Linked DNA regions of Homo sapiens: regions 1, 3 and 4 are each linked to region 2. Evidence: fine-mapped expression QTL. A gene starts in region 2. Each other region holds a variant in brackets. All regions are shown on one strand. Distances are from middle to middle. Region 1 has its middle 6.5 kb from the start of ADORA1. Region 2 holds the start of MYBPH (myosin binding protein H). Region 3 has its middle 14 kb from the start of CHI3L1. Region 4 overlaps CHIT1 (chitinase 1).

What was found. PIP is the estimated chance that this variant, and not a neighbour inherited with it, causes the effect.
Region 1: its variant is fine-mapped to the expression of MYBPH in whole blood (TOPMed, PIP above 0.99).
Region 3: its variant is fine-mapped to the expression of MYBPH in fibroblasts (GTEx, PIP above 0.99). The same link has a PIP of 0.9 or more in whole blood.
Region 4: its variant is fine-mapped to the expression of MYBPH in whole blood (TOPMed, PIP above 0.99).

Annotation. Positions count from the first base shown.
Region 1 is chr1:203,117,484-203,124,905 of GRCh38, forward strand. No RefSeq gene overlaps it. Among named protein-coding and RNA genes, the nearest start is that of ADORA1, 6.5 kb to the right of the region's middle. The variant C/T (reference allele first, on the strand shown) is at 4,365.
Region 2 is chr1:203,171,879-203,179,300 of GRCh38, forward strand. MYBPH (myosin binding protein H) reads right to left here and starts at 3,948. Exons shown (of 11, transcript NM_004997.3): 1 at 3,673-3,948; 2 at 3,449-3,583; 3 at 2,552-2,719; 4 at 74-162. The coding sequence starts at 3,877. CHI3L1 (chitinase 3 like 1) reads right to left here. Exons shown (of 10, transcript NM_001276.4): 10 at 7,053-7,422. RefSeq lists enhancers at 2,083-2,612, 5,530-6,729.
Region 3 is chr1:203,196,601-203,204,022 of GRCh38, forward strand. No RefSeq gene overlaps it. Among named protein-coding and RNA genes, the nearest start is that of CHI3L1, 14 kb to the left of the region's middle. The variant A/G (reference allele first, on the strand shown) is at 3,663.
Region 4 is chr1:203,212,468-203,219,541 of GRCh38, forward strand. It overlaps CHIT1 (chitinase 1), which reads right to left. Exons shown (of 11, transcript NM_003465.3): 9 at 6,749-6,862; 10 at 5,272-5,398; 11 at 3,612-4,666. The coding sequence ends at 4,422. It overlaps LOC124904485 (a long non-coding RNA gene), which reads right to left and starts at 1,020. Exons shown (of 2, transcript XR_007066797.1): 1 at 686-1,020; 2 at 356-578. RefSeq lists enhancers at 2,865-3,621, 3,622-4,377, 4,378-5,133. The variant C/G (reference allele first, on the strand shown) is at 5,071.

The sequences.
Region 1 (7,422 bases), 54 kb before region 2:
GGCGAAGGTTGCAGTGAGCCAAGACCACGCCATTGCATTCCAGCCTGGGCAACAAGATCCAGAGAGGAGGGAAGTGTTCTCTTGGGGCTGGGTTAGATTTGCCTGGAAACGGGAGGAGACAATGCTATGGGAACAAAGCACTTTGGACTGGACGTCAGGAGAGCGAATCTGTCTCTTCCCTCCAAGGGAGCGGGTCTGCTGGGCCTTCTTAGGCGCCGTCCCTTTTGGCCTTTCTGCAGGTGAGCTCAGGAGAGGCTCGGGCAGGTGGGGAGCTGAGGCGCTGCCTGTTTCGTCTGTTCTGGCCCATGATGTCGGGTGAAGCATCTCAGCTGAAGCCTTGCGCAGTGCTCCGCCAGGCGCTATAATGCTGAGCCCAGCTATGGCTCCTCCTTCTTCTCCCTTCCGCGGGAACCCAGCACCTAGCGCGGCGGAGCAGGGAACTCAGGCTGCGGGACTGGGGTCTGGCCCTGCCCAGCTCCTCGCCCACGCCCAGGCTTCCGTTAGGCCAGCAGGGGGACCCCGAGCCCCGGACAACAGCCCTGAGCTGGGCGGCTGCTTCTGGCTCTAGATCCCGCTGCTCAGCCGATCCACCTTCCCCACCTCCCTCCCCCCAGCCTCAGTTTCCTCCTCTGAGAAATGGGAAAATGATTATACTTATTTCACCGGCAATGCTATGATAGTTAAATAATTCTAAACCATAAAGCGTTGTGAGACTTCCTTCTTGTACTCTTGAAGTGTATTATTTTGAACATTGAACATTCAGTCAATGTTTCTTGAGCTCTATGCCCCGGGAGCTATTTTAAGCCCTGGATGAAGTCTGTCCAACTCGGGCCGGGGATAGTGATTGAAATAGAAAAGCTCAGTAAGTGAAGGGCTCCTCTGTGTCTCCCACCCCACTTGACGAGCCAGATGGAGTGAGTGGCTTTTAACTGTAGAGTGGACCCCTCTAGCAAGCTGCTGTTTGCTTTTCTGGTGTGGAAGGTAGGACTTTGGGATGAGCCCACAGAGGACCAGGGAGCCCAGGCCATCCACTACCTCTTTATCCCGACCTGAGGAACGTGCACTTAGCGCAAATTCCCTTCCTTCCATGCCCAGTGCTCGCTGGTGACAGGGTTCAGGGCAGAGGGGGTGAGGCAGATCTGAAGGGAATGATTCTAGACTAGCACTTTGAGTTCTGCTTAACATCAGGGAGTTGGGGCCAGGATAAGACTGGAGCTGAGGGAATGGGCTGAAGCCGGAATCAGTGGCCAAGCCTCTGTGACCAGTTCTGATTCCTGAGTATAATGAGTGAATGCCTAGTGTTTCCACACCTGGCTTCCATCGCTGCTGGGAGGGGCTTCACTCAGAGAAATAACTATGAGAATGTGTACATGGTGGGCTCTCCTGCAGGCTCTCAGGGGACCCAGGGATACTGGCTGAGGACAGGGGCCATTTCATCCCAGTTAGCTTTTTACTGAGTGGAGCAAAAACTCGTTCCTTCCATGAAGCCTCTGGCTTCAGTCTCAGCCCTTACACCCCAGGACATGGTCCATGAAGCACCTAGTTAGGACTTCAGAAGGATGAGGTGATGGTTCACGTGGAAGATGTTGCTTTTCAGTTCCTTCTGTTTCGTTCCCTCAGTGGGCTGCAGACTCTCTGAGTGGGCTATTGTGATGAACTGGAAAGAACCTTGGAGTGGAAATCAGGAGGCCTGAGCTCACGTTTCAGCTCCAGCACTCAGTGGTTTCAGGCCTCTCCTTGAGCCTCAGTGTTTTAATCTGGCAAAGGGGAGCATAATAGCTTCCCACCCAGGTGGGGTGATGATACAGGGGATAAATGTGAGAAAGGGCCAGACATGTGTTCTGCCTTTTCTTCTGTCTGTATCTACCCTAGAAAAATGAAAACACATCCTCACACAAAAACCTGTACGTGGGCCAGGTGTGGTGGCTCACGCCTGTAATCCCAGCACTTTGGAAGGCTGAGGTGGGTGGATCACCTGAGGTCAGGAGTTTGAGGCCAGGCTGGCCAACATCGTGAAACCCCGTCTCTACTAGAAATACAAAAAATTAGCCAGGTGTGGTGGCTCACACCTGTAATCCCAGCTACTCAGGAGGCTCAGGCAGGAGAATCGCTTGAACCTGGGAGGCGGAGGTTGCAGTGAGCCGAGATCACACCATTGCACTCTAGCCTAGGCAACAAGAGTGAAACTTCGTCTCAAAAAAAAAATAAAATAAAAAAACATGTACACGAATGTTCATAGCAGCATTATTCACAATAACCTAAAAGTGGAAACAAGCTAAATGTCCATCAACTGAAGAACGGATAAACAAAATGTGGCTTGTCCACAGGATGGAATACTATTCAGCCTTAAAAAGGAATGAAGTATGGATACATGCCACAGTTCAGATGAACCTTGAAAACATTATGGTAAGTGAAAGAAGCCAGTCACAAAGGACCATGTATCCTATGTATCATATGATTCCATTTATATGAAATGTCCTGAATAGGCAAATCCATGGAGGCAGAAAGTAAATTAGTGGTTGCTAGGGATGGGTGGTGGAGGGAAGGGTTGGGAAGTGACTACTGATGGGTGCAAAGTTTTTTTGGAGGAAAGGTGATGAAAATGTTCTAAAATTAAATGATGGTGATGGTTGTACAATTCCATAAGTAACTCAAACCACTGAATTGTGCACCTTAAATGGGTGAACTTTATATTATGTAAATTGTATCTCAATAAAGCTGTTAAAAGTTTTTAATTGGGTGTCCTGAATTTAGTCTGGCAGCTTCACTTCTGCCCCTCCTTCCTTCTTTTCTCTAGTCTTGACAGCCTTCTTCTCCCTTTTGGAACATATAGAAGATAGTGGGGGTATTTGTCTTTCTTGAGGGACAAGGACACCTCTTGATGGGTGGGGAGGAATAAGGGAGCGATTAGGGAGTCAGATACCAGGCTGCCTCACCTCCAACAGATATCATCATCTCCCCTGCCTCAATTTCCCCTTCTGCCTAGTGAGGGGAGGGGAAACAGAGGATTGCTTGCCTTTGAACCCTTGGAGGTGCTGTCGGAGGAGTCCAGGAAGGTGGGGTGCATTTGCTGGCTGGGATGGGGTGGGCTGCACAGGACAGCATGAGCGCTTATGAGTCACATGGTGGATCTCCCAGACAGTGGTGGGGTGGCAGGCGGATTGCCCAGAGGCACCTCTTTGGCCGCAGACAGGGGCAGAGAAGCCAAGAAATCTGTGACTGGTGCCCCGTGGGCTAGGGTTAGGGGTAGGGGCTGGGCCACAGGCTGTCAGATGAAGAGGAGCTGGTGCTGGGAGAAGGCTGAGTCTTTAATGGAGCTGCAGCATGGCTGGCCAACTGCTGGCCTTGTGTCAGGTGGGGGGGTGGAGGGGCTTCAGGGAAGGGCTGGGTTGGGGTTGAAGACCTGGGAGCCTCTCCTTAGGACCCAGTGGCAGTGGGGGAGGGCTTGGAGCTGGTGAAGAGCTAGATACTTCCAGGTCTGGGGACATCCAGAGCTCTGTGCCCAGCCAGCTGTCATTAACTGCTTAGCTCCTTGGGGTCTGTGCTCAGCTTCGTTTCCCTCTGATTCATCTCTTCCTTGCCACTGCTTCCCTCCCTCAGACTGTAAGCATGCTCAGAGCTCCCCATCTAAAACCAACCTCTTTTTGACCCCTCTCTCCTGCAGCTCACCATCCATCTTTTGTTCTCATCCCTGCCAAGTTCTTTCAAACTAGACTCATCTGCACCCACGGCCTCTACCTTGCTTACCTGCTGCAGCGTCAACCTTTGAGAGGCACTCCTACTCCCCCATCCCCTGAAGCTTCTTTGAGGTCTCCACACCCTTCTTTTCATGAAATCCACCACATCCCCCTCAGACCTATCATAGCTGCCCTTCAGCCCTCAGCCCCGAACCACTCAGCACCCCTGCTTCCTGAAATGTCTGGTAGCCTGCTCCTCCCCTTTGGCTGCCCTCCCTCTTGATTACTGTGGGCACAGCCCAGCTTCTCCACAGCCTATTCTCTGCATCCTCTCCTGGGTGGCCTCATCTCTCCCAGGGCCTTGACTGTCACCTCCATTGCGATGACCCAGCTCCAGCTCCGATCACCCTTTGGCCATTTCCAGAAGGCTGCTGGACCCCTCCCATGGGCACAGCCAGCCCAACCTGTCCAGGAGTGGACTTCGTATCCCATCCCCCATCCCCCCAACCAGCCTGTCCGTCAAATCTCCCTCATCCTCCTCAGCATTTCCCTGGGAACTCAGCTTGAAATAGAGTCATCTTTGCCTCCTCAGTCCCCCAGCCACTATGCCCGGAAGTCCTCCCACGAGACATCTTTCCTGTCCATCTTCATCTCTGTTCCCACTGCTTCCTCTTAGGTTTAACTTTT[C/T]GTCATCTTTGACCATGATTGCTTCCTGGCAGTTCTGCCTGCTCTCACCCTCTCCTCCTCCCCTCTGCACAGCGTCTTGGATGATCTTCCTATAGCATCTTTCAGGTCCTTCAGAAAATCCTCAAAAATCCTCAAAAGCTTCCCATTATCAACAGAGTAGACTGTATATTTGTGTAGTGATCTACAATCTAAAAAGCACTTTCACATAAAGTCAAAGAGGTAATGTTATTCTTCTTCTTTTATGGATAAGAGAACTGAGGCTCAGGGAGGTATGGGGAGTGGTCAGGCTTCACCCAGTGCTACAGAGCAGATCTGGGACTGGGGCTGAGGCCTTCTGTGGGTGAGGCCTTTCAGTGGGTGCATCGCCCACTACAGTCCTCTCAGTCTGCCCTGGGGACCTCAGCAATGTAGCCCCTAGTTGTCACCCTGCTGCCCAGCCTGGATCCAGTGCCCCTGCTTAGCCCCTGGTCTTGCCCAGAACACACTGGGCAGTTTCCCATGCCCCTTGCTCAGGCTGCTCATTCACTTTCTGCCCACAAAGTCCTCCTCCAGGCCACTAGCCCATCTCTGCAAGCACAAAGCATCCGGTGCCTCCTTCAAGGCCCAGGCTATGTGTTGCTTTCTCCAGAATCCTTCCCAGCCCCTGCCAGCAAGGGAGTATGCTCCTCCCTTGTCTGGGACCCCTGGAACACACCACCAGGAGCTCCAGCTGATTCTGAGCAGGGATTGACACAGCCGGGCCTCCAGTCCCCATGCTTGCAGCTCTTGGGGGGTGTCTTCATAATAGGCCCTTCACAAATGCCAAAGAAACAAATGGTGGATGGGGCTGCCCAAGATTCTCCTCCTTGAGGAGGCCCTTTCAGACCAATTGGCCCAGCAGTTCCAATCACCTCCCGAGCGTCACATACACCTTCATGGGTAAAATGCATCACACGGCTGGGTGCAGTGGCTCACACCTGTAATCCCAGCACTTTGGGAGGCCGAGGCGGGCAGATCACGAGGTTAGCAGTTTGAGACCAGCCTGACCAACATGGTGAAAACCCTTCTTTCCTAAAAATGCAAAAATTAGCTGGACATGGTGGCAGGCGCCTGTAATCCCAGCTACTTGGGAGGCTGAGGCAGGAGAATCACTTGAACTCAGGAGGCAGAGGTTGCAGTGAGCTGAGATCGCGTCACTGCACTCCACCTTGGGTGGCAGAGTGAGACTCTGTCTCAAACAAACAAAACAAAACAATCAAACAAACAAACAAAAAGCCACACATCAAACCTGGCTCAGTCCTCGGACGGTCCAGGTTCTAGTGTTAGCTCTGCCATGTGGCTTCCCTTGAACCTCTCTCATCTGTGACCAGGGACTAATAACACCTGCTTTGCTATCTCCCTGGTGTATAGTGAGCATTCAATGGGATACTGTCTGTGAGAATTTCTGTATTTTTATTATACCAAGAAGAATGAGCTTGAAGGGAATTCTTTTATAAACACTAAACTTTTGTGCACCCGTGAGGGGCTTTTATAATTATATACAGGTGTGTCCACCTAACACTGCCTCCCTCTGCTGTAAGGTGGCGAGGGTGTGAAAGCCCAGAACCCTCACTTCATCAAGTTCTAAGATTAAAGGGCTGATGCTTGAGGGATTCTCAAGGGATTCCCTGAAGGGTAGGTGGGACCAGGGCTCAAAATGATGCTCACCTCCAGGACCCTCCTGGGTACCAAGCCCTGCCCCTCACTGCTGGATGGGTATGGCTAAGTTCATTCCTTCTCTGGGTCTCAGTTTCCTTATCTGGAGAGGTTGGATTGAAGCTCAGATGTTCACTTGTTTTTTTTTTAAGAGCCACAATGTTCAAAGAAAGTCTTATACCAGGAACCCATACATGAAATAACCAGAGCTGCTTCATCTAAAACAGGGTGGCTCCCTGAGCCCCCAAGACCTGACCCTCCTTCCCAGCCTTGGAGGTCCCGAGGCTCCTCTGTGGAGCCCTAAGGGGTCCTCAGTGTATCAAGACCCAGGAAACATGTTCTGATTCTCACTGGAGGGATTGTGTATTGGGGCCCTTCATGCCTTCCTTACCTGAGTGTGAACTCTCTCTGGAGCCTGCAGGAGAGACTATGGCTTTTTTATGCCTCTACCCACGATGCTCAGCTCACTGTCTGATACACAAAAGGGGCTCAAGAAATGTTTACCCAACAGAATAAATGAATGAATGATGATGAGATTAGGAAAGAAATGCGAAGGACAACCTTGCTTTAGGAGGTAGGAACAGTTCCATGCTGTCTGGAGGAACGGGAACTAGATGGCCTTGACCTACCCCATGCCTCCCCACCGCCTCACAAACACACAGGGAAACACGCAGCCTGTGTTCTTCCCGTGGGCCCAGTATCTGGCACAGAGAAGCCCTGACTGGGAAGAAGTGAGCTGGAAGGAGGGAGGGAGAAGGAGGCAGAGACCCAGGGTGCAAATCTGAGCAGAAGGAGGGTGGTAGAAAAGGAGAGGAAGGGAACTTCCAGGAAGTCACTGCAGGGGCAGACAGGCATGGTTATGGGCCCCTTGGGGGAAGGGCTAAGGGCTTTCCTGACACCCAGAAATCTTTTTGTCCCAAATGCCTGCTCTTATCCAACAGTTCTCCTCCTTGTGCACACACTGGCCAGAGCAATGCTGAAAAAACAAGACAGGGACCAAAATATCCTTCTGCCTGCTGGAAAGGACAGAGAAAAATTCTGAAACCCCCTCCAATCCCCAAGCTCTCCCCACAGGGCTGAGCCAAGCCTTAACAGCCAGTACTCCTTGCCTTCCTTCCTGGGCTCTGGAGGGGTGTGCTGGGATACTTCAGCCTCCTTGGGCAGCCCTTTCTGACCTGAGGAGTATAGCCCAATTTGGAGAGTTCCAGGGAGAAAAGAGCAGGGCTGCTCAGCAAGGTTCCCCTCACCCAGGAGTGCTTCCCCTTCAGCCCTCCCTCTTCCCCACCCACCTCTGCCCACAGTGGGGAGGCTGCAGGTGCAAGGGGCCAGTGGAGAAACCCAGGACAGGGGCTTAGGAAGAAAAGAAGTAGGATCAAGCGGTAAA
Region 2 (7,422 bases):
TCTCCCAGGCTCCCCTTAAATGGGGGCCCTGGTTCCCACCCAGGCTGTTACCCTTGGTGGGGGTAATACCCACCTGGAAGGGGATTTGCAGGTTGACCGTCTCTCCCACCTGGCGGATGTAGGTCTGACGGAGGTGGCGGGGGACACGGATCTTGGGGGCCTCTGGATCAAAGCAAGAGTCTGGGCTTAGCAGTGCAGTGGGGTGGCTGATTGGGGTTTCTGAGATGGGGCAGGGGACAGCTGGTGAGGGATGCTGGCTGGGAGGAGGGTCCTGGGTGTGCCTGGCTGCCATGGGGTCCCTCCTTGCAGGAAGGGTGAAGCTCTCACTCCTGAGGTCTAGGGGCCCAAATCCCTTAAGGGAGCAGGAGGTTTCAGGAGGTCAGCGCCTCCATGGTGTGAACTGGTAAGCATCCTGGGCACTCCCTTGGCGCCTCGACTCTGCCAGGATGGGATTTGTCCTGCAGCCCAGGCATTCCCAAGCACCAGATGGGCCCCAGCTGACTCTCTGTCTCCCCCTGCTGGGGAGCAGGTGCTGCACCTGTCAGGCTGCACTTCTAGGAAGGGGAGGCCACTGCCGTCTTCCTGCTCTAATATCCCCAGCTCTCCACAAGCCCAGGACTTTCAGAGAAGCCTTTGTGAAACCCTGTTTGTCCATTCCTCTGTCTCCAGGCCCTATTGAAAGGTTTAGGATCTTTCTCTTCCCAAGTGAAGCCAGGGCGGGTATCCCCCCTTCTTCCTCTGTCACCCTCCCAAAATCTGTTAGTCTCAGAGCCGGGAAGTCCTTCTTGAAGTCCTATTTCAGCTGCCTGCTATGCTAAGGAATGACATTCTGACCCTCATCTGGTCAGGGGCAACCACTGAAGCCCCTGGGCATTCTAAGGGAAGCTGCAGTGGCCACCATCCCTGTCCCCTGGGGTGGGTGCTGGGTCCATGACTGAGGCTCCTCAGCAGCAAACAGGTGGCAGCAGTTGGTTGGTGGCATGCAGGGCGGAGGAGGACAAGACAGTGAGAAGGAACACGGTGTCTCTGAGGATTAGCTGAGTGGGCACTTGGCTCTGGGAGCTCAGGCATGGAATGCTCTAGGGACAGCTGCAGGGGGTCAAGAATGCTTGGCAGCTCCAGGTGGCCAAGGAGAGACAGCTGAGCAGCCAAGGATCCTGGACAGGGCCCCCACTCTGCCCTGTGATAAGCCTGGCTGTTCCCCACTTGTTCACAGCCTCCTCTCCCTCTTCTCTCCAGGAAATCCCCTTCTCTCCTGCCAGAGGAATTTGAATGGAGAAGTGGGTGCTGAGTCTGGCTGGGTCCATCAATGCTGGGCCTCAGGGGCCTCTCAGAGTCTGAGCTCCCTGGTTCCCTGGGGAAGGCCCAGCACCGTCCCAACCAAGAAGCCTTCCTGGCACCTCCAGGACTAGGGTCGACACAGCCATAATGCAGCTGCCTGGTGGGGCCACATCTCACCTAGAGCCAAAGGCTGGGAATTAGGGTTGGGAGGCTTGGGTTTTGGGTGCCACCAGAGAAGATGCTCTGCAGTGCAGTGGGACATGAGTGGTCCTGTGTAGGCATCAGACTCTGGGACTGCCAATAAAAGGCTGGGTGACCTCAAGGGATGCCCTGGGCTCCTTGGGATCTCCTTGGGCCTTGATAATCTATGAATCTAAGCTCCCTAACCCCATGGTTCCCATGTCTCTCAGGCCTCAGAGCTGAGCATTTCCTTTCGAATCCAGACTTGACCCCTCCTGTGGATCCCCTCTCCTTCTGGAGGCCTTGTCTAGAGCTACCAGAAATCATCCATCCCCTAGTGGAGGAGCAAGAAGGAAGGTGGAGAAGGCTTCAGGCCACCTGCCTGCCTGTGTCTCTCCTCACCCTGGGGGACTGTGCTGTCCCCAGAGACCTCAGATCAGACCAAATGACTCACTGTCATTAACAGACTGAAACCCGATCAGCTCCGGGAGGGGAGCGAGGGGAGGATTGAGGCTAATGCACCTTGCAAATAGAAATATTAGCAATGGGGATGGCAGCTGGCCTGCGGGGCCCCAGTGAGGTATGCCCTCTGCAATGGAGAAGTCTTCATGGGCCTTTTGCAGACCTTCTTTTTCTTTCCACTAGGGCCATGGTGGAACAAGGGGCAAGCAGCGCCTTCTCTCTGTTTCAAGACCTTTGAGAGAATCTGGAACCCAGGCCACAGGAAATGGGCAGAAAATGAGCATTTATGGCCACTGGAGAGATTGAGATTAGATGGGAGATAGAACAGATGGACTCTTAGCATTGAGCAGGTGACCCAGGGAACTTGACCTTTTGTTTCTGAGCCCCTTTCTCAAGGCGTGGGGGCTGGACCACTCAGGGAAATGGCTTCTTAGACCTCCAGAGGCCCCTTACTGCTGAGGAACCTGGAACTTTCTTAAGGCAAGATGGTGATAGCGTGTGGCTTGTGCATGTGAGCGTGGGACGGGGGAAATGACTGCCTGGTTCCCTCTACCTGCTGGCCTCAGTTTCTCCATTAGATAAGGTGTTTGGGAAGGGCTGGGTAGCTGAAGGCCAGGATGGGCTTTACCAATGTTCTCTCGGATGTGGATGGGCTGGTCCAGCATGGCCGGCGGGCCAGCCCCTGCAGAACTCACTGCAGACACGCGCAGGAGGAACTTGTCTCCCAGAGCCAGGTTCCGCACAGTCTGCTGGGTCACCATCATGGGCCGGGCACTCACAGGCACCCACTCCGAGGCTGAGGGGATGGAGAGAGTGTGAGGTCTTTGCAATGTGGCCACAGGCGCCCCTCTCCATGGGGCTTCTTTTCCTGCTGGTGATCTGGGGAAATCAGCCTCCCTCTCTGGGCCTCATTTTCCCCTTGTTTGCCTTCCCTGACTTCTTGTCAAATGGCATCAAAGACACCTGATGTTAGAGCCCTGAAATTGTGGCTAGAGATGAGGTTGTTGAAGCCCAGAGAGGGTTGGACACATTTGCAAAGTCACACAGCAAGGTAGGGGCAGAGGCAGAGGCCAGGCTGGACTTGGGCCATGGAGGGGGACAGTGGCAGCAGGGATGTGGCCCCCACACCCCCACCCCATTCCCGCTTTCTCCTCACTGTCTCTTACGCTAACATTCCCCTCTCCAGCTCCTCCCTTTCCACTTCCTACAGTTCGGGGTCCTCTGAGACTTAGCACTTCCTTCCCTTCTCACCAAAGGAGAACCCAGTGTCCCCTTACCCTTCCCTTACTCAGAAGCTCCTTGGAGCTGAGGACAAGGGAGCCCCTCAACCCACCCACCTACCCTTTCTTGCTCTCCTGCTGGTGGAGCAAGAAAGGGCAGGTGGGTGGGTTGAGGAGCCTACTGCTCGCATCCCCTCCTTCTGTATCTCTCCCAGACTGACCAACCACAGGGCCTGTGCACTTGTCCCTGCAGCCCTCCATGACAACCTCCCCTGGGTGTATGCAAGACTTAGCCCAGCACTCACCTCCCTCTCTGCAGAGCTCCAGCACATAGCCCTGGAGGCCCAGCCTCCCCAGCCTCTCTGGGGGCTCCCAGCTCACAGTCACAGAGCTGCTGCTCACATCATCCAGGGTCAGCAGCAGTGGGGCACTGGGGACATCTGGGGAGATGAAGAGGTTCATGGCCAAGAGCTCCCCTCCACCCCTGACATGCCTGCCTCCCTCCTCCCCCTGCCCCACCTTCAGTCACCTTCACTTGGGGGTGCAGGCTTAGTGGCTGTGGAGGCTGTAGGGGCCTGTGGGGCAGGGGCCTGCGGCTTGGGCACCTGCTCTTCTCTGGTGGACTCTGATACTGCCACTTCTCCGGGAGGCTCTGCTGTGGGCACCTTGGCAGATTCAGATGCGGTCTCCTCTGGACTGCAGGCAGGGCCCTCGGAGGTGTTTTTTTCCATCATTGCTGGACTGGCTGGGGGGCCAGGGTGGAGTGTGCAGGGGTCAGCCGTTGGGGGGCCTGGGCCTCTAGGGTGCCTGGGACACCTAGGTCCAGGCTTATATAGTCAGGGGCTGCCCCACCCCCAGCAAACGATTCCCAGCTGTGGGGTCAGGTCAAGCAGGAGGACTGGAGGGTGGAGAGGCGCCCAGGCCAGGAATAGCTCTGGGGGAGGAACCACAAGGGCCCCTTGAGGAGTCACTTCCTCATCCATCTCCCCGACTGGCCTTCAACAGCCAGGGTGCTGGTGCCCAGCTGGGGGAGGGCGCAGATGGGTGAGATGGGACATCGAGCAGGCCGCGTGCCAGGTGTCAGGGCAATAGGAGGAAGAACTTCTATCTGGAGAATGAGCCCAGCTCAGGCTCTGTGTGTCTGGCGTCTATGGGGCCACTTGTTCCCAGAGCTTCTCAGACTGGGTGCTGGGGCCCTGACAGTTTGGGACAATCGTCCTTGTGAGCACTCCCAGCTTTGCCTCTGGGGTCCACATTCCCTGGGCTCCCACAGTTCCCAGGGACTCTCGCCTGTGCTGTATGAGGCTGAGGGCCCTAGAGAGGGAGGGAATTGAGATGCTGAGGGTGGAGCTGCTCAGAGGATGGTCCTCCAGCATTGGAACCCCAGGAAGGGGCACTAAGTCTCCTGGCTCCTGTCTCAGTTGGGCGGCTGGTAAGGAGCTCGTCTCCCCTGATGCCTGCTGTGGGCCTCAGTTTTCCACCTGTTACAGAGAACCCCTCGCCCTTCGGGATGGGTTGCAGTTGTAGGCAGATCTGGAAGATGCCCTAGTGGAGGAGAGCACTCTGAAGCTTCTAGACTCTTCCAAGCAGGCTGTGGGCATGGGCTTTCTCAGTGTGCCAAAGGAGGCAGATATGGCCAGATTTCTAGTCATTGATTCATTTGTTCGATAAAATGTTAAGACTGGGAATCACTGGAAAGCCAGAAAATGCCATGTGTCAGGAAGGAGGGAGAACATTAAGAACTTTTATTGCTGGTATTGGAGCAGTCACTCTGGAAAATGTGAGAGTTTTACTAGTGCCTAGTAAAATGGATGAGGTGCCTACTCCGTGACCCAGCCGTGCCGCTCATATAACACCCACACATGCCCCAGGAGACATGGAGAAGAAGGTTCATGGCAATGTTATTTGTAATTGTTGAAATGTGGGGGAAAACAGCTGTCCCTCAACAGTGGGATGGATAAATAACTGTGGAGTGTTTATGCAACTGTAAAGCAAAATATGGGGTCAAATGAGCAACTTCAGCTACTCACAGACCCAGTGATGAGCAGAAGAGCAAGGCACACAGAAATGTTGCGTCTCATCTGTCTCATCTACATTAAATCCAAATGCAGTCAACACCAGGCTCCCTTCTTCAAGGTACATCCGTAGGCGGTAAGGCCAGAAAGGAAGATGAGGCCAGTACAAAAGTTAGGATGGCGATTGCCTCTAGGTGGAGGAACAGGGATATCTGTGATCGTGAGGGCTGCAGGGGTGCTAATGAGGTTTCCTTTCCTGACCTGGGTGGTGGTTACACAGGTTCTTACTACATAGTTATTCTTCAAATTAAACAAATACATTTATGCACTCTTTAGCACGTAAGATGTGCTCACAATTTAAAAATAAGTAAAAGTGATTTATTCAGGGCCCTCAGCAGCATGCATGCTCTTCCCTTTCCTGAGGACTGGGGACACCAGGGTGTGGCTGCCTCTCAACCCTGCTGTCTCTGCTGGGGAGTGGCAGTGCAGGGCCTGGGAGCCTCTGGATCTGGCCCTCCCTGGATGCCCTCGCCCTCTGCTAGGTGACTCCACGTCTTGCCAGGCAGGGAGTGGGTCCTGGAGACTGGATCTCCATCCTTGGCCTCTGACTCTGCAGCTATAAGTGAATGTGACTAACCCCACAGGACACTGAGTCAGCCCTGGAGAGCCTGTCCCCGGCTGGGGGAAGGGTGGCCCCAGGGGAGGGCAGTTGGCTGCCCACAAGGGCTTGCAGCCCTGGGGTTTCAAAGATGCCTGTGTGGTGGGGTGGGCAGTGGCAGGGATTAGGGAATACTTGGCCCCACCAGCCAGAGGTGAAATGCCGGGTACCCCCTCCCCACACCCCACTCCACGCCTTGCCGAGTCCTTGTTTTCTTCGCCTTCAGCAGGGCTGTGACCTTGGGATCAGTAGCATCTGCCCAGCTCCAGCTGGTTCAGATTTCAGATATTTCCTCCTTCCCTCCACTTCAAACCGGCGTCACAAACCATCAGGCCAATTTGTGATTATCCTAAGTCACAGATAATCCAAACATCAGAGAATCCACAAATCAATTCTCTTTAGTTCTGGGGTGAGTATCTGGAGCCTTTTTGGATAAAGGCATTCCTGGGGCCCTGGGAATTCAACAGAAGCCTGATGAGAGCGTCTCCACCTCATAAAGGCTGAAAATCTGTCTATTCTTCTGAGTCACCCCATCACATCCTCCCGACCTCCTATCTCAGGCCAGCTTGAGCAGAGGTACTTTGATCTCTGAATGGGTGGAGGGATGAGTGTTAGGGGAGGGGTGAACAGAACAAAGGGCTAAGCCCAGCACTAGGACTATTGACAGATTTCAGCCCAGCCACGGAATGGGTTGCTTCCAAGGTAATCGGCTGCCCCTCACTGGGAGGCTGGAGGGCCATCTCTCAAGCACTCTGCAGGGACTCCAGTCCCGAGAGGCAGGAAGGGTGCATGAGATGACATCTGCATTTCCTGCTGGCCCTGAGGGTCCAGGGTTCAGGGCTTTCTAACCTGGTCCTGTGATGAGCTCCCACCACCTTCCTGTGGATCAGAAGAGAGGGAGTGTTGGGATGAAAAGCCTTCTTTCCCAGGGCCTGCTAGCCTTCAGGAAACAGAAAACGTTTCTTTCAACAGGGAATTTAATTTAGAAATCTGGATGGCAATGACTTTAATATTTGGAAGGCCATCAGCCATGCTTGGGTTAAGTCCAAGGCAGGTGAATCTGAGGACGCTGGCCTCCCACTGGGGCTCTCTGCGGCTAGGCAGAGGACATGGCGGCCTCATCTCTGCAAGCTCAGGGGTCCCAAGGCTCAGAGGAAGGAACCCAGAAGAGATGGGGGAGGTGAGTCCAGTGGGTCTAGTGGGCGCTCAAAGATAGACCAAAGCAAAGCGCCAACACACTGTTAAGCTCTTGTACTTTATTGAGCAGCTGTGGAATTAGGAAGGGGAAGTAGGATAGGGGACACGATTACGTTCCTAAGTGAAGGTTTCAAGCTGGGCTTTGCAGGGGGTATAATTAGTATGGTCACTGTGTCTTGTAGGATGTTTGGCTCCTTGGTGATAGAGCTTGCCAAAATGGTGTCCTTTGATAAGGAGGGCTGGGGGGCAGGGAGTTGAAGAAATTCCCTTGCCAGGCTTGGGGATCTGTAAACATTTCCATTAATCAACAAGTGTGTACTAATCCCGAGTCTTACATTGCGATGCCTCACTATCCCCACAGCCCCATCCCTACCTCTCTGCCCACCAGGGCTGAGCTCAAATCTGTGTG
Region 3 (7,422 bases), 25 kb after region 2:
CAGACAGGGTGGAATGTGGCGCTGTGCACCATTTCTGCCTGGATGTGGGACAGCTGTGTTCAGGCGGCCTCTCCTGTAAGGGAGCAGTGGCTCCCAGGGTCTGTGCTTTCTGGCACACGACACCCATGGGCAGGGGACTGGGAGTGAAAGCAGGGTAAGGAACCACTCTAGAAGTCGGGGCCAGCAGTCTTCACCCCTCTGAAGGTGCCTGGAGCAGCCATGTGTGTATTTATTTTCTGGACCCTGGTTTTGGCCCATCTTGTTAAAGAAGTGATGGCCACTCAAGCCGATCTGGGTGTCCCCCATCCCAGGGATTGACCGGCTTGCTTCTGCCTTCACAGTGTACTCCCCATTCTGGTGCCCACTCCTCACTTCAGTGATTCCTCTTTCTATTCCAGACTCATCTTCTGGAACCTTCCCTCTTTCACAGGCTCACATCTAATTGCTCTATCCTCTGACTGTGTTCTTACAACCACTGGGTCTGTGAGCTTGGGGAACACCTGTGTCTATGGTGGTGTTTTAGTGCCCATGTGTCTCATCTTACCTCTCAGACTGGAAGCTCCCTGAAGGCAGGACTATCTCTTTTCCATCTGCCACACACTTTAGGATCTCCCTGAAGGTAGGGGCTCTCGTCTCCTTTTCTTTTCAGATCTGGTGCCTCCTGAGGGCAGGGTTTGTGTCTCTTTCTGCTGGACTTCCCCATAGCCATGCTTGGGTAAGGGCCTGACTCTCTCAACAGATCTCTCACACCCAAGGACCCAGGTCTCTAACACATCTCTCTGGATGGTGATTGTGATTTGAAACCACTGTTTTGAGGGATGCTTTGCACTTATCCATAGGGCATGCAAAAGGTGTTCTTAGTGATGTCTTGTTGACAATCTTAAACTCCAATCCACTGGATGATCCTCCTTCTCCTCTCCCTTCAGTATCCAGAAGTAAGTGGAGGTTAGTGAAACACACACACACACACACACACACACACACTCCTTCTCCATACATTCTAAATGTCATCTACAAATGTACACCTCTAACCTCTCTAAATAGCCCTGTTCACCATAAACAACCATCCTCTCCTTGGAGTTGTTTTTGATGCCAGGAGAAAAGAAACACTGGCAATGTACAAAGCCAGAGCCCAGGTGACCCCAACCCCACGTGGTGCTGTGGTAGAATCAGAAAAAGTCCCCAACCCCCATTCAGCTCTGCCACTTGCTGACCTTTTTAGCATGACTCAGCCCCCTTGAGCCTCAGCTCCTCACAGGATTGTGGTAAGAATTCAGTGAGGTATGCATGTGAGGGTCTGGCACGGAGCAGATGCTCTGAGGAGGCCGGTTCTCCTTCTCCAACCCCACCTTCATTTCTGGCTCTCCCATGAGATTTCCACCCTCTGCAGTTGAGATGATCCTGTGGCTCCCCCACTAAACACTGAATTTGGAAAACGCATACAGCAGAGCTACATGGATCCCTTTTGCCAGAATGGAGATGGGTCAGATAGCAGTTATAACTCCCTTTAAGAGCCTTCAACATTAAAACAGGCAACTAGCCTGGGCGTGGTGGCTCATGCCTATAATCCCAGCATTTTGGGAGGCCAAGGCAGGCAGATCACCTGAGGTCAGGAGTTCGAGACCAGCCTAGCCAACATGGTGAAACCCCGTCTCTACTAAAAAGACTCAGGTGTGGTGGCATGCACCTGTAATCCCAGCTATTTGGGAGACTGAGGCAGAAGAACCCCTTGAACCCAGGAGGCAGAGGTTGCAGTGAGCTGAGATCTTGCCATTGCACTCCAGCCTGGGTGAGAGAGCAAGACCCTGTTTCAAAGAAAACAGGCAAATAAAGCTATCTTCAGACTCTCCATCCTTAGGAGTACTTAGGGGACCAGGCCTCATCCTTAGGCGACCGGGCCCTTTGGCCTGCGATGAGATGAGAAGGTCCTTCCTGAAGCCTGGAGATGGATGCGATTTGAGAACAGCTTATGTGGTAAGGAGGCTGTGGTAGAGAGAATAATGGCTCCCCAAAGATGTCCATGTCTTAGACCCCAGAGCCTGGAAACATGTAACCACACATGGCAAAAGAGACTTTGAAGATGTATCTAAGTTAAGAGTCTTAGTTGGGGAGGTTATTTTGGATTATCTGGGTGGGCCCAATATAATCACAGAGGTCCTTATGAGCGGATGATGGAGGGTCAGACACAGAAAAGGGGATGTGACAAGGGCAGCAGAGGTAGGAGTGATGTGCTCTGAAGATGAAGGAAGGAGCCACGAGCCAAGGGATGCGGGCAGCTTCTAGAAGGTTAGAAAGGCAGGGAAATAGATTCTGCTCTGGAGACTCCAGAAGGAACACAGCCCTGTGGACATCTTGATTTTAGCTTTATCAAACTTATTTTAGGCTTGTAACCTCAAAAAACTGTAAGACATTAAATATGTGCTGTCTTAAGCCATTATAATTTGTGGTAATTAGTTATAGCGGCCACAGAAAACTAATACAGAGATTGTTTTCTCCATTGACAATGAGGAAGCAGAGAGCAGGTGACCTTTCCAAGTCACTTGGCTGCTAAATACAGAGCCTGTACTGGAGCCCAGTCTCTAGGCTTCCTTTGACCAGGCATGGCCCAAGGCAAACCTGAGTGCAGGGAGTGTGAGGACATGCCTGAAAGTGACCTTTCTCCTGCTAGGCAAGGGCCTGGAGGAGGTGAAACCTGCGTGGTCTTCAATGCCCCTGACATTTGAAAGAAAGTGCCAGCTCCTCAATAAAAACATGCTCGAGGCAGACCTACCCAGGTTGGCACTGGATGAAGACCTCCCTGGTGGGGAGAAAGAAGCAGCTGGATTGCATGATCCCTACCCTGTCCCTCGGATTCACCAAGATGCACATTTCCCTTGAGAGGTTGTAGCCAAGGTGGTCTCAGGGGCACTGGTCACCCCTTAACACTCTGGCCCAGGAGGTGGCACAGTCCTCCCCCTGAAAAGCAGAGCCTGAGCCAAGGCATTCAGATAAGACTCAGGGGAGGCTTGAGGGTGAGGCAGGGGAAGTGCACGCTTTGAGGTGGGTCCTGGACAGTCAGACGTTCAAGCTATGCTCGACTCCTGATTCCATACGGAGGGCGCCATCTGTTTAGGGACCCCTGTTGAAAGATGCACCCCTGCTCCCAAGTCGGGGCCCTCTTCCATCTCCCTAAGGCTAGTCTTCTGAGCTCTGGTTTCCAATAAAGATACAACCTTTCCCCAGGGATTGGAGCTGGGCACCTCCTCTTTGTGGAGACAGAGCTCTCTATCTACAGACATGACCTGACTCATCACTCAGGCCACAGCTGAACCGAGAGAATATAACAGTCCCCCAACATCCACATCACTTCCACACTTCCACTGTTTGGGTAAAGCATTACATTACTCTCTGGAGCCCAGAGTCTTTTGGCTGAAAGACTAATTCACTCCATTATTCATCCTGAGGGGCAAGGGAGACTTGCTATGGGTGCCAAGTGCCCAACACATGCTATTCCAGTCACAACCCGCCCTGCCGAATGCTGGAATGGAGGTGTTGGCCTTATCCCTCTCAGTAGGTGAGCAAACGGAAGCTGAGAGAGGATCAGTGCTTTGCCCAAAGTCGTGCACATTTTATGTGGTTGAGCAAGACTTGAACTGAATTCAGCTCTTTCAACACTGAGTGCG[A/G]GGGTTGTTTAAGTAAGGCTGCCCTCATGGGATAAAAGGAGAGTGGGAGGAAAAAGAGAGAGAGCCAATATTGTAAGAAAATTCATGAAACACAGTGGGACAATAGGACAGAACAGTTGAAACTGGGACTGTCCTAGATAGCTGGTATAGATCTTGCCAAGAAAGGAAGTCAGAAGCTAACTATAGACTGAGGACCACGGGTGTAAGAACACGGTCAGTCCCTGGATTCTGCCACTTCTCCTTGTTGGTAATTTTCCATTCTCCCCACTGCTCCCCTGCAATGACTAGCACATAAACCCTGAAACTGAAAGGGACAGCTAGGAAGCAGATAGCCAGTCTTTGTCCAGTTCTGCAGCTATTTTAGGGAGAGAAAGAAACTCAACAATATGGTGTTTATGAGGAAAGTTTTGAGAAAACGTAAAAATAAGCGGAAAGGAGAGTGAATCTTTGGTGGCTTAGAAGGATAAACTAAAGAGCTCACAGGAGTCTGCCAGGGACTAAGGGCAGCATGTGTTCATTCTTTCAGGAAAGAGTTACTGAGCCCCTATTAGGTGCCAAGTCCTGGGCTAGGGTGGGGAGAGTGAGGAGTGGAACCTCCTTTAGTTAGGACAGTCAGGGAGGCTTCTCCGAGGAGGTGATCTTAAGCAGAAATCTGAGGGATGAGAGGGAGTCAGCTACCTCAAGAAGAGAGAAAATGATCCAGGCAGAGAACACCATATGCAAAGTCCTGGAGGTGAGAAAGAGCTTAGTGTGTTGGAAAAAAAAAAAGAGAAAAGCACAAGCAAGCTGACCAGCTGGCTAGAGTAGTTTGGGGATGTGGGGAGAGACAAGAGGCCCCGGGGAGAGAGGCAGGTCTGTGTCCTGGGGCCTGTGGAAACCACAGAGGGGTTTTGTCCTCTGTGCAATGGGACACCACTGGATGTTTAAGCAGGTAGTCCAGGATAGAGTTTATGTTTTGGAAAGTCACTCTAGTGGCTCTGTAGGGAATAGATTTGTGGTATGGCAAGAGTGGAAGAGGCATGAACATAAGCAGCTGTTAAAGAGGTCCAGGCAAGAGATGCGGTGGCCTGCCCTGGGCTGGGGACGTGGAGGTGGAAAGAAGGGTGGACTATGGACATTCCTTGGAGGGAACATCCGCACACTTACAGATGAGTTGGATGTAAAAGGATGAGGGAATAGAGGGACCAGGAACCACCCAGGGGGTCCTACCTTTAGCAAGGTGGACAAGGTTGTGCTAATTGTTTAATGTGAGGAATTCATGGGGTGGAGATAAGTTTTAGAGTAGGGGGTCTGTCTCAGCCATATTAAAGAACTGTTTATGCCTTATCTGGGTAGAGAGAGCAAGCGGGCTGGTGGATACATGCATCTGGAGCTTGGAGGAGAGGTCTAGGCTGCGGATACAGTCATTGGTGTCAAGATGCTATTTAAAGCCATGGGAACGGATGAGTTCACGTAGAGCAAGAAGGGCAGAAGCCCATGCCTGAGCCCTGAGGCATCCTGACATTTAGAGATCAGGTGGTGGAAGAGACCCAGAAGGTACAACGGCAACTATATCATTCAGCCCGACATCCACAGGCCCTGCAGGTTCAGCCCCAGTCTGCCAGGTGCTAGGGCCAGCAGAGGAGGGGGACAGGGCCCTTGCCCTCAATGGGCCCAGGGTCTATGTAGAAGGCAGTTGTTGAGCCAATACTTACAATATAATATGGTAAAGATGGGCCCAGGAGAAGGAACTAGAAGAAATGACTGTGGTCCCAGGTCCCAGAAGCTAGGGCTATGACTGAGTCTGGGAGGGGCCATGGGCCTCAGAAAGATGGAGAGAAAAGTTGCAGAGGGCCAGGCGCGGTGGCTCATGCCTGTAATCCTGGCACTTTGGGAGGCCAAGGCAGGCAAATCACGACATCAAGAGATCAAGACCATCCTGGCCAACATGGTGAAACCCCGTCTCTATTAAAAATACAAAAATTAGCTGGGTATGGTGGTCGGTGCCTGTAATCCCAGCTACTTGGGAGGCTGAGGCAGGAGAATCGCTTGAACCTGGGAGGCAGAGATTGCAGTGAGCCGAGATTTCGCCACTGCACTGCAGCCTGGGCGACAGAGCAAGATTCTGTCGAAAAATAAAAAAGAAAAGAGGCAGAGGCTGGGAACTATTCCAGGTCTGGCATCCTTCCCTGAGACCTCCAAGTCCCCTTGAAGCTTGTTGCCCATCCTTCCCTTCCGCTCGCCGCCAGCCTCCCACCCCACCTCCTAGTCCGCCTCCAGTTTCTCCACACTGCCCGATCTTCTTCCAGCAGAGCCCCTACCGCTCATGAGTAACAACATGGAGCCCTGCTCATTCCTCATTCCCATTCCTACCCCAGGCCTCCAGGTCTCCACCCCTTCCCTGACAGGCCAGCCTTCTCAGGAGATGTGTTTTCTACAACTAGGATTAACTTGACAGGAAAATGACCACAGCCTGAAGCCTTGCCCTCCATCAGGGAGGGATGCTGTCTCCAAAACAGTTGCTTCATTTCCTGCTGTTGAGAAATCATGCCTGTTGACCAGCTTACATTTCACATTACTAAGAAAGGAGAGAAATCTGCCCTGCTGAACTTCTTAGACAGAAACTTGGTTAACCCCCTGGGTTTGTGGGTGAGGGTCCTGCACGAACCCCCTTCCCTCCTGTCAGCTGCAAGTGCAGCGGCTGGGCTGCTGGTTTACATTGCTGCCTGGGTCATGGTGCCCACTCAGTTCGCTCTCTCCCATGGCTATGTGCAGTCCACAAACCTGGACCGTTTGGCCTCAGCCTCTCTCCATCCTTATCCCCTCCTGCCTCCCGGGTCTTCGCGTGCCTGGTCCAGTCTGGACACACCCTGGCCCTCAATCTGAGGTCATGGCTCTGAGTCTCATGGCTGACTGCCTGAGACTGCAGTGAGGTCTGAACCCTCATTCAAAACTCGATCTCAGTTCTGTTGTTTCTTTACGTTAGGGTCCCCACAGATCATCCAACCAGAGGAAATTTCCTCTGAACATATTTAATTTGTTCTTTTTTAATTGTTTATGACTCATTTAATCTTGAATTATAATACTTTGTGGGCATGCCTTATCCCCTCTCTTCTAGACTCTATAAACTCCAGAAGCTCAGGCCTTGAATCTGGAGTCAAATCTCATTTATCTTCATCCACAGTCTCAGCCAAGAGCTTGGACATGCTTGTGGAATGGATGAGTTTTGATTAGAATTGTAGAAGGAGAATTTGAGCTGATTGATATGGGAAATGCAACCTAGGGATTGATTTGTTGGTTCTGTACAAAAAAGTACCACTAACAGCTAGGAGCAGAGTCTATAAAGGGGATAGAGAGCAGTTCATTTATTCACTCGTTCATTCAACAAACACATATTAAGCATCTACTATTTGCCAGAAGTAGTATTAGATTCCGGAGATATAGTAACAAACAAGGCTGATAAAGTCCTGGTCACATGGAGTTTCTCTTCTAGCTCAGAAAGACGGATAGTCAACAGCAAACAAACAAACAAACAAAAAACAAAACAAAACAAAAAACACCGCGCAGCAGTAAGTGCCATGATAATAAACAATTTGGAGTGATGTGAGAGAGTGACAGGGAGGTGGTTGAAAGGACTCTCTGAAGAAGTGATGCTTAAGGGGAGACCTGAAGGGTAAGCTGGGCTGCTATGGGAAGATCTGGGCATGGAAAACCAAGCCCAGGAAGCAAGAATAGATCAGACCAAGTTTTGAGGTCAGGGCAGGTGGGGAATAGAGATGGG
Region 4 (7,074 bases), 40 kb after region 2:
GCAGATCACTTGAGGTCAGGAGTTCGAGACCAGCCTGGCCAACATAGTGAAACCCCATCTCTACTAAAAATACCAAAAAATTTAGCTGGGTGTGGTGACATGCGCCTTTAATCCCAGCTACTTGGGAGGCTGAGGGACGAGAATCACTTGAACCCAGGAGACGGAGGCTGCAGTGAGCCAAGATTGCACCACTGCACTCCAGCCTGGGTGACAGAGTGACTCTGTCTCAATAATTAATTAATCAGCTAATTAATTGCAGCTTTGCCACATACTGCTTGTGTAACCCAAGGGAAACAGAAAATGACACGTCCTTTGCAGGGGTACCGTGAGGATTAAACGACACAGGTTAATTCACTTACTATTCATTCAGTAACTATTTATTGGATGTCTAATACATGCTTAGTATGGTCTCTGGTCATGCAACGAATGTTAATTCCCCTGTCTCTTTGAAGGAAGGACTAATGGCTGGACACTAATATTAAAAGAGTCAGTGGTATTCAATAGAAGGGCTTGGGAGAGTAGTGCTCTTGTCATGAAATAGCACTTCAGTCTGGAAATCCTCTAAGTGATTTCTGCACCTGAGGGTAAAAGAAGAAAAAAAGTCAGAAATTACATGGTTCAATATTTACTGAGCCTCAAACATGTGTCATGATTGGAGAGGACCACTTAAGACATTGTGCTTGACCTTAGGAGCTCGGAACCTAGGGGAGGAGTCTAACATCCACACAGATCACGGTGGCAGCATATGTCAGTGTGGTGGCCCAGTGGTCTAGTGTGGCAGGGAGGCAGTCACTGATGTCCAGGGCACCCGAGGATGTTTCCTGCAAGAGTAACCCAGGAGCTGACTGTCTCAGGGTGACTGGCAGTGGCCCGGTGGGGAAAGGAGGGATGGCACAGGCAGAAGTGAAGCACAGGTGGAGATGCGCTGGAGGAAGGCATGGCTTGTTTGGAGACTCCCGATGGTCCCCTGGGATACAGGTCACCACACTGGATATGGGACACCAAGGGTGCTTTCCTAGCAGCAACCTGGGGCAGAGGAGAGGGAGGATGTTGTACTGGACCATGCACGTGGACCATGCACTGGGCATAAGGGCATGACAGAGGCTGGGGCAGTCACCAAAGGTTGACTCTGAAGGTACAGTCCACAGGTTGGGGCAGTGGCCGGGAGCCCTAACCTCAGTCGGTATTAACTAAAAGGCCACCAGGCAAGTGGGGATTGAGGTGACAGTTGACATAAAGGATAGGGGAGCAGTCATTGCTCTGGAGGACTTGTCCATGGGGCCATGATCACCGCCATCAGACTAAGGGCCTACACGAGGCACCTGTGCCAGGGGAGAAATGGGGCCAAGGCAGGGCCTCTTGGGGACATTTAGAAGAGGGGACCAAGGCAGGACCATGTCCTATAAGCTGGGTTAACAAAGGCAGCCAGGGAAGAATTGCACCCAGATTTACCCCTGAGGACTGTGGATCTCAAAAGTGCATGGGCAAATCTTCCTTTGACTTGGGATCTCATCTCAAATGTGGCCTCTACTGAGCCTTCTGTGACCACACTGTGCACAGCAGTCCCCTCACCGCCATCCTTCACTCTCTAGCCATATCTTGTTTCCTTTCAGCACTCATTATTGCCTGGAAAGGTCTTATGTGCACGTTTGTTCACTGTCTGCCTCCCCCAACAGAATGTTAGCCTCAGGAAAGTAAAGCCCCGGCTCTTGTCCCTGCTGTGTCCAGCTGGACACCAGGCCTGCATGGACACTTGGTGTGTGCTGAGAAACTCAGCAGCAGCAGGAAGACTCCAGCCACATGGGGCTTCAAGGCCAAGGTGGAGTCAAAGGAGACAATCTGGCTGGGAACAATGGCTTACACCTGTAATCCCAACAGTTTGGGAGGCCAAGGCAGGAGGATCACTTGAGCCCAGGAGTTGGAGACCAGCCTGTGTAACATGACAAAACCCTGCCTCTACATAAAATACAAAATTTAGCAGGGCATGGTGGTGTGTACCTGTAGTCCCAGCTACCTGGGAGGCTGAGGTGGGAGGATCAGCTGAGCCCAGGAGGTCAAGGCTGCAGTGAGCTGTGATCGTGCCTCTGCACTCCAGCCTGGGTGACAGAGAGAGACCTTGTCTCAAGCAAACAACAGCAACCCCGTCTCTACTAAAAATACAAAAATTAGCCTGGTGTGGTGGCAGGTGCCTGTAGTCCCAGCTCCTCGGGAGGCTGAAGCAGGAGAATCGCTTGAGCCCAGGAGGTGGAGGTTGTAGTAAGCCGAGATCACGCCACTGCACTCCAACCTGGGCAACAGAGCGAGACTCTGTCTCAAAAAAAAAGAAAAAAACCAAAACCCAAAAAACAAAAACCAAACAAACAAACAAAAAACAAAACAAAACAAAAACAAACAAAAAGAGATAATCTGAACACAAATAGCTTTTCGAGAACTCTCATTGTTTCTGTCCTAGACAGGATTCATTCAGAAAATGGCGTGGGCCTGAGCTAGCCGGGTGACAGAGGGCTGTGGGAGTCCCACATGAGGAGCTGGCATGATGGTTGAGGTTAATGCTGACATCAGGGGTACCCAGCAACTGAACTGGGGTGGGGACGGCAGGAGAAGTGACCGGAGAAGACACGAGGGCCTGATAAAGTGTCTCAACCCTGTGCTGATGGGTGGGGACTTTCTCCTTTGGGCAGGGGAAGCCTGTCACTTCCCTTGCTTAGTTTTTAAGCAGGGGAACTGACAGGCTTAGATCTCTATTTTAGAAAGATTAAACTGGTTGCGATGTGGTGGCTGACTGGAAGAGGGGGTGGGCAGGAAGCAGGGAGGCCAGATAGAAGGTGGGTCCAGATATGAGATGATGCTGGTTCTAGCTGAGGGAGTGGCCATGAGTTTGTAGAGGAGCAGGGTGGATGTGAAGACCAGAGAGAGGCTGTGGCTAATGCTTTCCTGAGGGTAACAGTAGTGCAGGTGTAAGACTGCGTACTCAGGGAGGACTTTGGTTATTTGGATGCTTGTAGGAGGGCGCATTCTGCTAAAAGGAGACTACAGTTTTTGCTAAATCCTTGACAAACCCAGCTCACAGAAGTTGAAGAAAGGGCTGAGAAGGGAAGAGGGAGGGAGGGAATGAGCACTGATCATAGGGCAGGCGTGCACGACTTCACTGACTCCTCACATTTCTTCCATCCTACAGCAGAGGACTGAGGCTCTGCTTCTTTGCCTGAAGTCACACAGCTGGAGTGCAGCACGCCAGAAGTCACCCCTGCACCTGGACTCCACTCCTAACAGCTCGTTGGGATGTGGTTGGTGTATCCCTCAATTGAGACCTCAGGGGGCGGAGCACGTGCTCAAGCAGCTTGTGCTCTGGACTGAGGAGAGCAGGTTTCAAAATGCCCATGGACAGGCAGGCTGCCGGAGTGACGGGGACACTGTTCCTGCGCTCTGGTGCTGGGTTGACTCACATGGGGGGCCAAGCTGCCTCCCCCTCATCTCACCTGTCCCAGTCCCCAGCTGCCTTCCCAAGTCCCAACCAGAAACCAGCTTGGAGTGAATAACAGGCTGGACCATTAGGCTTTGTGCAGATTTTCTTCAAACAGAATGACCAAGGTGCAGCCCAAAGCAGCCAGGAATGTTGGGATGACTTTATTTAACCAGGACACCGTGTGCATGCTCTCTGGCCCATTTCAGGCCTTGGTTCTGGACTCAGAATTGGTTAGAATCAGTCTTCAGTTTAAATGCCTATAAAGTGAGAATAATCATTGTTCCTTCTTCATCTGGTGAACGGGGGCAGTAGGTGAGATAGGGCCTGCAAAGGGCCCAAACAGGATTTATCTCGAAGACCCCTGAGTACCAGGGGTCTGAATTCTTAGTGTAATGCTGAGTGGCTGCTCGCAGAGCGCTTAAATCAGGGAAAAGTTCTTCTCTGCTGCCATCTAGTGGCATTTTGGGAATAACACGTGCGTGAAGGTCCGCAGAAGCTCCTGTTTCCAGGCTTCTGAGCCAATAACCAAAGAACGTGTTGCACTTGGGGCCGCGCTCTGGCTGCCATCACCTGTGTACTGGAAACTGCCCACTGGCATATGGACTCATGGGGCAAGACCTGCCACAGGGCCTGGCACATCCTGCACGGACCACCTTCCCACCTGGCTCTGACCTGCGGATGTTTTGGAGTCAACAGTGTGCTTAGAGAGCCTCTTAAGTCACCACATCTTTGGGAAGAGGGGCACAAACCAAAGATTTATTTTGCAAGTGAAAGGGGCAGCCCAGGAGACCCAGAAAAAAGGAAGGCAAGGCTGAGAGCAGAAAGCCTGGATAAAGGAAGACCACAGAAAGGCCTGCAGGAGCCAGATTGCGGCCCCCAGGGAAAACCCAGGAGGCAGGCTGTAGAGTGATCCTGGGCCCAGCCTCAAAGCTGGGACTGGAGGGGCTTTAGCGACTCAATTCCAGGTGCAGCATTTGCAGGAGTTGCTGAACACCAGGCCTGTCGGGCAGCTTTGCTGGAACAGCCGCCCCGCTGCACAGCTGTAGAAGCTGGACCGTTCCCGAGGATTGGGATAGAGCCCATCAGCTTTGCCCTGGCAGAACGTGTCTTGTCCAGGGCTGGGGCCATGCTCAGGTTCAGAGGGCTGACCTGGTTTTGGAACTTCAAGCTCTGGGGTGCCTGAAGGCAAGTATGGAAGACCTGGGAAGACAGTGAAGATTCAACCAAGGCTCCCCCGAAGAGATCCCAAACCCACAGGCAGAGCACACAGGCAGCAACCATTGGCTGGCAGCAGCCCAGCACCACATGCCCTACAGGCTGAGTACAGCCAGATACCCCAGGCAGAGAACAGCCAGACAACAGCCATACCTACAGCTGAAGCACAGTGCCACAGGCAACACCTGGCCTCACATGTGACAGGCAGTTAAGGCTTTACCCATCTGCAAGCACAACCATATACTGCTGAGGGCAGGTGGGGGTGCCACGCTGCAGGCTAAGGGGAGGCTTTCTCCCAGGTAAGAGAGGAACAAGGTGCTGCTCCCAGTCTGGGGGCCCTCTGGAGGGAAGCCACGGTTACAACAACCCTGGGCAGGCATTGCTACAAC[C/G]AGGAAGAGAAAGACCGCAAAAAGGAAAATTGTTTTGACAGTTTCCTTAGCTCCTGCGGGTACATGAAGCTTGGGAAATTACAGTATTGGGGCAAAGTCATTTCCTCAGAAGGACCCGGGACCTACAGTTCATTGGATGCATGGAGCTGTGTTTGTACCCCACCTCCAAATTCCACCACTGGCCCTGGGCCCCTTACTTACTCAGTTCCTGCCGTAGCGTCTGGATGAGGGGGTATCGGCCCTGGTTGCAGGAGAAGCCGGCAAAGTCATCTAAGTCCAGTGCCCAGACCATGGCCCCGCCCAGTCCCTTCTGCTTCAGATAGCTGACCTGTGCAGGGAGGGGATGCAGTGGAGGAGCCCGGGGAAGCCTGACCCGGCCACCCCAGAGCCTGGCTACCTCTTCTGGACAGGGCCCTTTTTGCTCCAGCAGCCTCAGGCCTGTGAGTGGCTGTAGATTCTGGAGACAGCCTTGGGCTGGGAGCCTGGATGCTGAGTCCTCATGCTGCTTGGACATCAGTCATTTTGCAGTCTCCTTGTCTTAACGTAAGCATGACCTGGGGTGGGGTGGGTGCAGTCGGGAGGAATAGTGTCAGTTGTGTGCACCTCCCTAAGTGGGAACCCTTCACCGCTTGGTCATGTGTGGGCTGAGCTGCTTTATTTAAGGGTATTGTATGCTGGTCAAGGTCAAGGTCAAGGTAAGTCCAGTTACCATAGGGAACAACTCAGATTTCCAAAAGATCTCAATCAAGGCTTGCTTCTCTGTCTTCATGTCTTTGTCTTCCCTGAGAGCCATCTTCCCTCCACCAGATTCCTGAGGCTTCCTGAGGGTATGACTGTGTGTTCCCTCAGAGTGGGATTCTCTGTCCTCTAACCCTGCCAGGGGGCCATGGTGCTTGATCCCTTGCTGGCCCCAGCCTCCCTTTCAGCTAGCTCCCTTCCTCTACCTGCCCTGCTTGGGGGTCCAGCTATGTGGGCCTACACTTTGTTTTCAGAGTCCAGCCTTTACTTTCTCTGCACCCGCGTCTTTGCTTGTGCAGTTGCCCGCTCCCTCACCCCTAAGAATGGCCACCTTCTATGCTTTAGGACTTATCTGAAATACCCTTCCACCGTGACCCCTTCTCCCATCTCCCCAGCCAGGATCGTGCCCCCCTGCAATTGTCCACCTCTAGAAGCTGCCGCTGTCAGCCACACATGATAGTTGATGTGGGATGTACAGATAAACTAGTGAAGCATCCGTCTTCAGGAGCTAACAGTTTCACAGGGGAAAATGGCATGAAACCAGGTAAATGCACCAATATTGGGCAGGAGAAGGGGGTCCTATAAGTAAAGCAAAAGGTCTGTAATTTGGACATGCACCAGATATTGCCAATGGGCTGAAGAAAGCTATATGTCTCACCATGTGTATTTCTCCTCTTCATATGTCTGTAGAATTTGTATGGTATTTAATAAAATAGAAATACTTTCCAGAGTGCTACTAAATGTAGAGCAATTTTTTGTCATTTTGTCTTTTCTGAGTCAATAGGTAGTAAAGGTACAAAATACTATCACGTGGAGATTTATGAAATGTTGGGACATTTAAAGGAGACTCACCCTTGAGGTCCTGAACTGTCCTCATTCCATGTCATTGACAGGACTTGTTCACTAGGACCACCCCTCTGCCAGCAGAGCTGGGCCTCACCTTGGTTTTGAAGCTCTCCACATCATCAAAGCCCACCCACTGGTTGTCCCGGAAGATGTAGGGCACCTTCTGATCCTGGATTCTCTGTTTGGTGGCCCCCTTCCAGGAGCAGACCTGTGGGAGCAGAAGGCAGCACTGGGGAGGAGGAGGGAGGCTCTTGCAGGCACCTTCCCTTCCTCACCAGGAGGAGACTAGAGATTGGAAAATTCCTGTCTGAGGAAGCCTGGAGAATCAGGAGGTTCTTTGCAGTGACCTAGAATTCTGGACTCAGCTTGAGGCACCTGGGCTTAAGGATAAATTCAAGATGGCATGGATGAGATGGAATT